2 separate regions of the Homo sapiens genome follow, and region 1 is linked to region 2. The links come from fine-mapping of genetic effects on gene expression. A gene starts in region 2. The other region holds a variant in brackets. All regions are shown on one strand. Distances are from middle to middle. Region 1 overlaps LINC01471 (long intergenic non-protein coding RNA 1471). Region 2 holds the start of PODXL2 (podocalyxin like 2).

The links.
Region 1: its variant is fine-mapped to the expression of PODXL2 in whole blood (TOPMed, PIP 0.96).

What each region holds. Positions count from the first base shown.
Region 1 is chr3:127,526,850-127,532,222 of GRCh38, forward strand. All of the region lies in intron 5 of LINC01471 (long intergenic non-protein coding RNA 1471), which reads right to left. Among named protein-coding and RNA genes, the nearest start is that of LINC02034, 7.8 kb to the right of the region's middle. The variant A/C (reference allele first, on the strand shown) is at 2,594.
Region 2 is chr3:127,626,650-127,632,022 of GRCh38, forward strand. PODXL2 (podocalyxin like 2) reads left to right here and starts at 2,536. Exons shown (of 8, transcript NM_015720.4): 1 at 2,536-2,640. The coding sequence starts at 2,571. LOC107986126 (a long non-coding RNA gene) reads right to left here and starts at 2,314. Exons shown (of 2, transcript XR_001740892.2): 1 at 2,157-2,314. RefSeq lists silencers at 2,469-2,538, 2,649-2,778 and an enhancer at 3,179-3,238.

The DNA.
Region 1 (5,373 bases), 100 kb before region 2:
TGGGGCCCCGGAGCTGTGAAGGAGGACCTTGTCTTGAACCGTCCTCAGGGACAATGTGCCAGGGGAGGGTCCAGCCTCCAGGCTCCTCCTCTGCCAGCCCCATCTGCCCCTGAGCAGTTGCCTGGGAGGCAGCAAGGAACATGAAGAGTCACGTGGATTCTGAAGACAAAACTAAACTGGAATCTCAGCTCTGAACCCCCAGCTATGTGACCTTGATTGTGTCATTTTCTAGAAGACACTGTCCTTTGCAGCCCAGACCCCTCCTTCTGGACCAAGGTATTTGGGAGTGTTGAAGGCTGAAGCCTGACAGCTGCGTCCCTGGGTAGTGCCCTTGGATAGCAGCAGCCGCTTCGCCCAAGGTCACACCCCTCCTGGGGAGGAAGGGGGCTTTGGTAGGCATCCCACATCCAATGTCTGGCTGGTGAGGGGGTACAGAGTCCTGGCCCCTTAATTAGAAGTTAAGAACCACTCTGAAGGGCCATTCAGGTAGGAATGGCTGAGGCTTCTGTTGCCCGCAATCAACTTCTCCCTCTGCCCAGCCCTCCTTCCCTCACTCCCTCACCAGTGTCGAGCCTGAGCCTACTCCCTAATAAACTTCCTGAATGCAAATCTTCATCTCACAGTTTCTTTCCCTGGAAAACAGACCTAAGACGCACTTCATTTCTCTGGAACTTAGTTTCTGCAGATTTACTGAGTTGCAAAGCTTAAAAGCAATGATGTATGCAAAGCTCCTGGTCCAGGACATGATAAGTCTTCAATAAATGTCACTTGTTCTCTTTTCTGGCCTCCCTGTGCCCTTTGGTCTCACACATATGTGTATCTGCCATTGAGCTCAAGCCAAGGCCTTATACAGGGTAGATGCCCAGTGTGTTCTGAATTGAGTCAATACACAATATATGACAAGCATTGCACTTGTCACATTTATTAGAAGATGAAGTGGAAATGGTTCATTGTCCCCCAGTATCCATGCTCAATTTCTCTCATAGAAATAAAACTCTAGACTTTTAGCTGGGTACACTTCATCCCAGAATGAAGACTACAGCCTTCCCTGCAGCTAGGTATGCCCATCCGTTTAAATGCTGGCCAGTGAAACATGAGCAGAAATGATGTATGCAACTTCAAACGTGTCTTAAAAAGAAAGGTCATGCTTTGCCCTTCCCACTGGTAAGAATGCAGATGTGATGGCTGGAGCTAGAGCAGCCACATTGGACCACAGAATAGCAGGGCAACTGTGAAGCCAGCAGATGTACCCTGGGCTGAATGCTCACTGGCTGTGCCTTTCAGGACCTAGTGCAGCAGATCTCTCACCTCACAGAGCCTCAGTGTTTGCATATGTGAAATGAGACAAATTCTAAGTGAGACCATATACAATGGAATCTCACTGTACCCAACAGTTCTATTTTACAGGGGAGAAAAATTCACTTAGAACTGAAGGGCTTGGACTCTTGGGAATATTGAATTTCAGACTAACTCCTTCTTAATTAACTCATTTTGTTTATATTTATCTTTGTGGTGTGACCTTCCTTTCCTGGGGATGGTCCAGATCTAGCAGGTCCAGGGGAAAGGCTAACAAATAAAGAAACAGATCTCTCCCTGTCAAAAAGGGCATCGAGTTCATGTAAATTAAAACGTGGGCCTGGCAGGCCTCCACAAGGCACGTCAGAGGTCCAGAGGCGCTCATGATGCTTATATGCTTGTTGTTCTGTGATGATTTAAAATGCCCTCAGAGCTGCAGGCACCATGGTGGTCTGGAGAGGTGCAGGTGAACCAGGAGCTGTGCAGCCTTTGCATATAGAAGAAGAGGAGGGTTTTCCTATAGATCCTGGTCAACGATGGAGAGGTTTCCATGAGCTCACTTGTCTTTGAAGTTAAGAAAAAAAAGTTTCCATGAGCACAGCAAAGGGGCATAGAGTAGACCCTGGCCTAGATGACATGGAGGGTTTTGGAGGAAATTGGGAAGAAGAGTTTTAGAGGACAACTCATGAATGCGTAGAATTAGCATGGATTGGCTGTGGGTGTTTGTGGATCCAAGGACTGGCTTTCGTCTGGCCTGGACCCAGGCCTCTCCAAACCTCAGCCCAGCCCCATCCCAGCTGCCCTGCCTCCAGACCCTGCCCACCCTCTGAGATCCAAGGAACCTCTCATTATAGCTTGGCTTTCTGCTCTATGCACCCCAGGGTATCACCCAAGGTCATGTTTAGACTTTTCACAAGAATTGGACAATTAGAGCAGACAAACAGTATGAATAACAGCAGTGCACAGCTCAGAATCTTGAAGGAGGCTGGCGTAGAGGATGGTGTATGTGTGCAATTTCAAAGGGCTTTACCCACTGGAACTGCTGCAACCAGAAAGATGGAAGAAGTCAAGGTACTTTTTCTTATTTCCCCCCACCAAATACAGCTAAAAGTCATGGGTATTCTGTGTAGAATGAATACAAGGAGGCCCTAACATGTGCAGAGAAGCACAAGCTGGGAGCCTCAGGACCTGGCAACAGCATGGTGGTGAGTTCCATCTTTTTGCTTCGTGTTTGCCAAACTGGGTGCTAAAGAGTCAGCAACCTAGAAATACCAACAGGCTCAGAAAACAATCCCCC[A/C]AAAAAACCTGCTCCCTCTAGCCAGGCAAGGGGCATTCTGGAAAACTTTAGAAGATAACTGACCTACGCCATCAGACCACACAGGAAAAGACGAGGCCCCACACCACCCTGGCCAGCAGAGACTGAGGAGGGAGCCTAGACCTCCACCCTCACCCAGATGTACTGACTGAGATGCCACCCCTCCTTGGGAAGGTATTGGAGAAGCCCAGCTGGGGGCAAGGAAGTCCACCACAGCCGGGCCTCAAAGGAGGCTGCTGAGACAGAGGTTTAAATAAGGCCAGGAGCCCCACCACATAACCCCTAATATCCAGGCTTCAATCACAAATCACTCCACACCAGGATCCAGGAAAACACCGACCCTGATGAGAAGAGATGCAGAGACTAACCCAGGATGACACCAACAGCAGCATCATCTGAACAATTTGAAGCCACCATCACAAAAATGCTCAACGGCAAACACAACAGAATCAAGTGAGAAAATAGAAAATCTCTGCAGAGAAACAAGCCACAAAGAGGAACAAAATGGGAACTCAGGGTTGAAAACGCAACAGCCAAAATTAACTCAGTGGATGGCTCAACGCCAGAACAGAGAGGCTGGAGGGAAGAGTCAGTGAACCTAAAGATAAAATAATAGAAATTACTTAATTTGAACAACAAAGCAAAAAATAGACTTAGATAAAAATGAGCAGAATCTCGGGTATGTATATTTTGGCCTATATACATTTTGGTCTATATTTTGGTCTCTCTATTACAAAAGGCCTAGCATCCATGTCGTGAGAGACCCAGAAAGGAAGAAAGATGAGGGTGGAGCTGAAAAGATTTTCAAGGAAATAATGTTTAGAAATTTCCTAAATTTGGCAAAAGACATAAATTTACAGATTCAAGAACCTGAGCAAACCCCAAATGGCATCAATCAAAGCAAACCTATGCCAAGACACCTTCTATTGAGACTTCGGAAAACTGAAGACAAAGACAAAAATCTTGAAAGTGGCAAGAAAAAAACATCTTGGCCAGGCGCCATGGCTAACGCCTGTAATCCCAGCACTTCGGGAGGCCGAGGAGGGCAGATCACTTAAGGTCAGGCGTTCAAGACCAGCCTGGCCAACATGGCAAAACCCCGTCTCTATTAAAAATACAAAAATTAGCCAGGTGTGATGGCGCATGCCTATAATCCCAGCTACTAGGGAGGCTGAGGCAAGAGAATCATTTGAATCTGACAGGCAGAGGTTGCAGTGAGCCAAGATCGCACCACTGCACTCCAGCCTGGGAGACAGAGAGAGACTCTACCTCAAAAAAAAAAAAAAAAAACAGAAACAGGCTGGGTGCGGTGGCTCACGCCTGTAATCCCAACACTTTGGGAGGATGAGGCGGGCAGATCACGAGGTCAGGAGATCGAGACCATCCTGGCTAACACGGTGAAACCCCATCTCTACTAAAAATACAAAAAATTAGCCGGGCATGGTGCCACGCGCCTGTAGTCCCAGCTACTCGGGAGGCTGAAGCAGGAGAATCGCTTGAACCCAGGAAGCAGAAGTTGCAGTGAGCCGAGATTGTGCCACTGCACTCCAGCCTGGGCGACAGAGAGAGAGAAAAAAGAAACAGCATCTTACCTGTAAGGGAAAACCATTTTAATGACAGCAGATTTCTCACTGAAACCATGGAGACCAAAAGGAAGTGGCACAGCAATTTTCAAGAGCTGAAAGAAAAGAACTCTCAGCCCAGAATCTTACATCCAGTGAAAATATCCTTCAGAAATCAAGAGGAAATCAAGACATCTTCAGAAGAAAAAAAAAACAGAGACTTTGTCACCAGCAGACCTACCCAAAAGGAGTGATTAAAGGAAGTTTGCCAAACAAATAAAATGAGAAAAGAAGGAATCTCAAAGTGTAAGGAAGGAAGAACACAGTCAACAAAATATAGATAGAGACAATAGACCTCATCTCTTGAGTTTTCTAAATTATGCTTGACAATTGAAGCAAAAGTTATAACACTGAATGATGTGATTGCCAACGTATGTAGAGGAAATACTAAAAAGAATTGTTATACAGGGGGAGAGAACAGGGAAAGTGAAGGACTTAGGTTTCTCCTCTTCCCCCCCCCCCCCCCCCCACTGATAAAATGTCAACATCAGCTAACTGTGATAAGTTATATATGTATAATCTAATACCTGGAATGACCACTGAAAAATCTGCACAAAGAGATGCTGTCAAACGCACTATATACAAACCAAAATAGAATTTGGCAGACCTGGGTTCAGGGCTGAGATAGAGCCCAGTGGGGTGTCAGAGTGGGGCATAAGCCTAGGGCTGGCCTGTCCACCCAGTTTCAGCCAAGGGTGGCATGGGGGTGTGGAAAGGGAGGGCACTGTGCAGGCTGGGACAAGGGGAGACAAAAGAGGCATCCTCCATAAAAAACACAGGGAGGCACTCACTGCCAGGCCTGTGGGTGGCCTCCGAGAGGCTGAGCCTCATGGAGGAGAGGCAGCCAGTTCCAGGCAGTGTGGCAGGCCAGGGGCAAACTGGAACTGGAACTTGGGGAACTGATTCTGAGGTCACCCTCTCAGGGGGTAGGAGTTTGCCTGTCCCTAGTTGAATACAGAGATCCAGTCAGGGACAGGGTCTGGCCTTCAGGTCACTGTGGGGAATTGAATGGGGAAACCGAGGCTGGAGCACAAAATAATGGATTGGACCAGCACTGCACAGTGGTGGTGGGTGTAGGGGAGATGCAGTAGCTTTGTGGCCCTGGGTGCAGGGACCTCCAGGGTCACACCAGACACAGGG
Region 2 (5,373 bases):
CTTATTGACATTTGGAGGAATGTATATTCAGATCTTTGTCCATTTTAAAACATTGAGTTGTCTTTATTACTGACTTGTAAAAATTCTTTGTATATTCTAGATACATGATTTCCAAATGTTTCTTCCCATTCTGAGGATTGCCTTCACTTAAATTTTTGTTTCTTTTTTTGAGACAGAGTCTCACTCTGTCACCCAGGCTGAAGTGCAGTGGCACAATCATAGCTCACTGCAGCCTTGAACTCCTGTGCTCAAGCAATCCTCCCACCTCAGCTTCCTATGTAGCTAGGATTACAGGTGTGTGCCACCATGCCTGGCTAATTTTAAAATTTTTCATAGAGATGGCATCTTGCTTTGTTGCCCAGGTTGATCTTGAACTCTTGGGCTCAAGTGATCCTCCCACCTCAGCCTCCCAAGTAGGTAGGACTACAGACATGCACCACTACACCTGGCTAATTGATTTACTTAGAGATGGGGGTCTCACCATATTGCCAAAGCTGGTCTCAAACCCCTAGCCTCAAGTGATCCATCCTCCTACCTCAGTCTCCCCCAAGTAGCTGGGATTCCAGGCACATGCCACCACCCCTGGCAGCTTTAGAGTTTTCTTCATTTGGAGCTTACATATCTGGTTTGGTTTATTCCAGTTTTTAATAATTGTTGCTGTGATTGCGATCTTTTCTCCTACTACATTTTCTAAGTGGTTATTGAGGATACACAGAAAAGCTATTGATTTCTGTACGTTATCTTTTATTCAGCAATCTTGCTGAACTCATTGGTTTTCAATTATTTTGCCAACTGATGATCTTGCATTTTCTAGATAAACCTGCAAATAATGAGTTTTCCCCCAATACTTTCATCCCATTTCTTCTATCAGGCCTTGTTGCAGTGTCTCTTATAGAATATTCAATCATTGTGGTGGTAGTGAGGATTATTTTGTTCCATTCACTTAAAAGAGAATGTTTCTAATGTTTCATCATTAAGTATGGTTTCACCATTAAGTATGATAATAAAGGTTTCTGGGAGATACCCTTAATGGAATTGAGGACGTTTCCTTCCATTTCTTGTTTGCTTCTAAGATCTTTGTTTCTTGTAACAGAAAAACAAAACAAAACACAACAAAAAACCAAAGGGATGCTCCTTTCATCCTCAGAGGAGGAAAGAAGAGGGAAGCTGGGTCTAGACACACCCTGGATTTCTCTTTTCCAAGCCCAGCTGACAGCCACTTTTCTAGTACCCCTAACACCCACCAAATAAAAGGTGCTACATTTTGCTCATGTTCTTTCTTTTGTCTGGAACCCATTTCTTCCCTATGCTCCTCCACCCCAACTCCTATTTCTCCTAAGTATTAATATTTAGTCTGGAAGAGTCCCGTGAGATTATCTCCAATGTCTGATGCTATACCCCTGCATAGGGGGGTGGGGATATACTTTGAAAAAGCATATTCAAATAACGATTTGTTATTTTAAAGAAGTGTTTTCCTAATATGGTATATATAAAGTAACATTCCACAAAATTGTGGTTGCTGTATATTTAAGCTGCAGTACTTCTAAAAGGGTAGTCGGGGTTTTTCTCTCCCTAAAAGAGGCTGAGCTTCTTTCTAACTCAGGAACTCTATCAGTGAGCTTTTCCCTCTGCCTTGTAAGTTCTCTCCCAAACCCAATCTCCTACCTAATACCCACTCATCCTTCCAGATGCCAGCCAGCTTACCTTAAATGCTGTTTCTTCAGGAAGGCAAGCATAAGGTTCCCCTCTGTGCTGTCTCCTAGCCCCTTATACTCCTTAACAGACCGACTACCAATTGCAATCATAGGACCATATGTGTGTCCATTTTGTTTTTCAGTCTGTTTTCTCTACGAGCCTAAACTATGAGGACGAGGGATGTGCCTGTTTTATTTACCACTACAGTGCTTGGCATATTAAGGATCTTCAGTTGCCAAAAGGGAGCACATGTTAGAGAAGTCAGCACCTCTCTCATAATCTAAAACCCCCCAGTTAGCAAATGGGGCAAGTGGGGCCCAGAGGTGAGAAGAGATTTACTCAAGGTCTCGGAACCAATCTGATCCTGAGCCAGACTGCCTAGCTCTAAAGTCCAGTTCTTTGCTCTCAGGTTCTCCTTCAGGGCTCACCCAATCTAAGTACCCTGAGAAGTCTTTCCTTACCCCAGGCCTCTGTCCACCCTCACAGTCATTTCCACGCGTCGTCCTCGTCCCATCAGTCCCATCTGCCACAGCTGCCCACTCTGCTTCCCAGGGAACGGGTGACCGCGCGGGGAGAGAGCGGCATCCGGGCGCGAGGTGCGAGGCCCAGGTCTGCGGGCGGCCGGGCCAAGCCCCCGAGCCTCGGCGGTGCTGATTGGCCGGCCTGGCGGGGGGGACGGGCGGAGGGACGGCCGCCCGCGCGTCCGCTTCGTCTCCGCGGGGGCGCGCCCGCGGCACGCGGCCGGGCGGGGCCGGGCGTGAGTGACGGCCATGCGGACCAATGGGGCGGGCGCGCGCCGCCGCCGCCGCCCGCGCGGCCCCTGACGCGGGCCCGGGCGCCGCGCCGCTGCGGCTGCAGGCGGCGACGGCTACACCATGGGCCGGCTGCTGCGGGCCGCCCGGCTGCCGCCGCTGCTTTCGCCGCTGCTGCTTCTGCTGGTTGGGGGTGAGTGCGCTCCGGGCCCGAGCGCGGGAGGGCGGGCGGCGGCGTGGGCGCGGTGCTGGACAGCTCCCCGGGCCGCCAACAAAGGGGCCAGAGTGCGGCGCCGCCGGGAGCGCGCGTGTCCCGGCCGGGCCGCGGCGCCGCCCCGACACACGCGCACGAGGAGTGGGTGCGTGGGGGCCGCGGCGGGCGCCTGGCGTGCCGGGCGACCCCCGACAAAGGCGCGGCGGTGAAGCTGGGACACAGCACCGTGGCCCCCACGCCGCGGCTCTCAGGGGCAGGTGCGCAGGCTGCTGCCTCGCGGGCCGGGGGGGCGCGCACGTGTGGGTGTGCATGTGTGTGCGTGTGCTTGTGTGTGTGCGAGTGCATTGTGTGCCTGCGCACTCGGGGGAAGAGGCGTGTGTGACAGCCACGCGGGGAGGAGGCCGCATTGTGAAGGTCCCAGGGGCCGCCTGCGGAGTGTGGGGCGGGTACGCTGAGGCGCGGGTGGCTGTTTACGCGTGGCGTTGCCGGGAGGGAGTGTGAGTGTGTCACGGTGAATGGGTATTCTCTCCTGTTCTGGGCGACTCTATTAGGAGCTGACAAAAACGGGCGTACAGCCACGGAAGGCCCGTGACAGCACACGGCGGGAGGCTCCCACGCAGCTCACACACGAGGGAGGTGTGAGACTCAGATGTGTGGTTTCCATTCAGCAGCCACGCCGGGCGGCGGGCTGTGTGGGTGCGTGGCGGGCTGGGGGTGTGGCACAGGTGTGAAAGGGATGTGTCTGCCTGAGAGAGAAAGAGACGGGCCTCCTGATGGCTTCCAGCGCAGACGGGGATTTAGTGGAGGGGGTGTGTAGGGAGGTGGGCATGGGGTGTGACAGCCCATGAGGCAGGCGGCCACTATGGAAATGGCGGGGAGAAGGGCTGTCTGCAAAGGTGGGTCAAATAAGGTCATAGCTGAGCAGCTCCTGCACACACTGGCAGAGCAGAGGGAGTGTGTTACGGTGTATGTTAAGGTGTGACTGGTGCTGCTGGAGGAATACCCGGATGAGGAAGTGTGCATGTGTGCCTGTGCACACTCATCAGCCAGCTGTAACTTCACTTCTGATGCACACGTCAAAATAGCGTCCTAGTATGATGTGTGTATGTGCATGTAGGAGTGTGTATGTGCATGTAGGAGTGTGCACAGGACATTTCCCACGCAGCTGGCCCATGAAGACACAGGCACTTTGTGTCCAGATGTGTGTGAGTGAAAGAGAAACTAGTGAAGGGTCTCTATGGGAAGGGAGGAACAGTCTTTGCCTGAGGTGGGCCATGAACCTGGGACTCAGAGTGGCAGAATCCCAGGGTAAATGGCTGGGAGGGGAAAGTGGTCCCTCGCACATTCCTGTGCATGTCATGGGAAGGCTCAGTTCAGGGAGGGTACATTTTCTCCACAGTCAGTCTAGGGATGAAGAAAGGCCCTAGGTGGTGTGCACAGAAAAACATGTCCATCAGTGTTGGCTCAGACACTCACACAAACCCACCTGTATTCTTTCACGCCGTAAATCCTCTTTGGAAAAAGGCGACATTCAATAAATAAACATCAATTGATTGGTCTGCTATTTCTTTGTGTGACAGTCATAAACCAGAACTGGCCAGCAACGTCCTCATGGACCCAGGCCCAGCTGTAACTGCCCATGTGCTTATGTGACCAGCTGTGAGGACTGCAGGCAGCCTGCCTCCCGGCTCCTCTCTCCCGTGCATGCTCTTCATGACGCACTTCTTACCCCCTGCTTGGAGGGCATGTGCGTGTGTCTAGCAGTGTGTCTCTTTCTTACACACCTTTGTGTGGAAGCCCTTCAGGGACCTGTCAGCATTGTTTCTCAGGTGCTTACAGAGTGGAGGTAGCGTGACTGTGCTCAGCAGTTCCTGTTGTCGCTGACACTTAAGGGTGAGGAGCTGTGTGACAGATGCTGCAGGGCCCCTCCCATGTTGGTGTCTGCCAAGAGCTTAGGGAGACTGGACTTCAAAGACCCTGCTTAGGGGAGAGGTGGGGTGTAGCTGATGGTGGAAATCAGAAAGGAGTTTTGCACCGGGAGCAGATCACAGGGACTGATTTGAAAAGGTAAGATAAAACATGAGGATCGCTGGGGTCTTGTTTTTTTCACCTCCCCAAATGTCAGCCTGCTTCCTTTGCCTCCTTCTGTGTTTGTTTGGGTCAGATTTTCATTTCTTTGAGGCTGATCCCCTAATCCTTTTCATGTGCCATCTTTTTCTCTCTCCTCTGTTGGGTGTGATGATGTAACAGAAAATTATAGGTGCTAGAGGGAAAAAGGAAATCAATCACACGCAGAGTGTAATTCTGAAATTTTAAGTCAGGTGGGGTCTCAATTAAGGCAGATTAATTATTAAGTGCAAAACTAATTATACACAGAATGGCTATGTCTCAGCTACTATTTTGGTGTCATCTTATGGTGGGCAAGTTTGAAAATAAGTAACCTCTTGTAATTACTTAAATAAATACCCATTGCCAAGGCCTTTGAAAATATCAAGTTCTATGTAAAGACAAAACAGTCATTAGAGGGAAAAATAACTTTAAGAAAATGAAACTGTTTACTGGAAAAGGAATGAAAAACCGGGAAAATACCAGATTCCTTTTTCTTCAGTAGGGTTTTCAAAATCTTTGCCAATTCCTATTAGACCATTGGGAAGGGAAGACAAAGAAGGAAAGGGAGAGATGTTAGAGGAAGGTTATGGGTTCCTGGCTTGA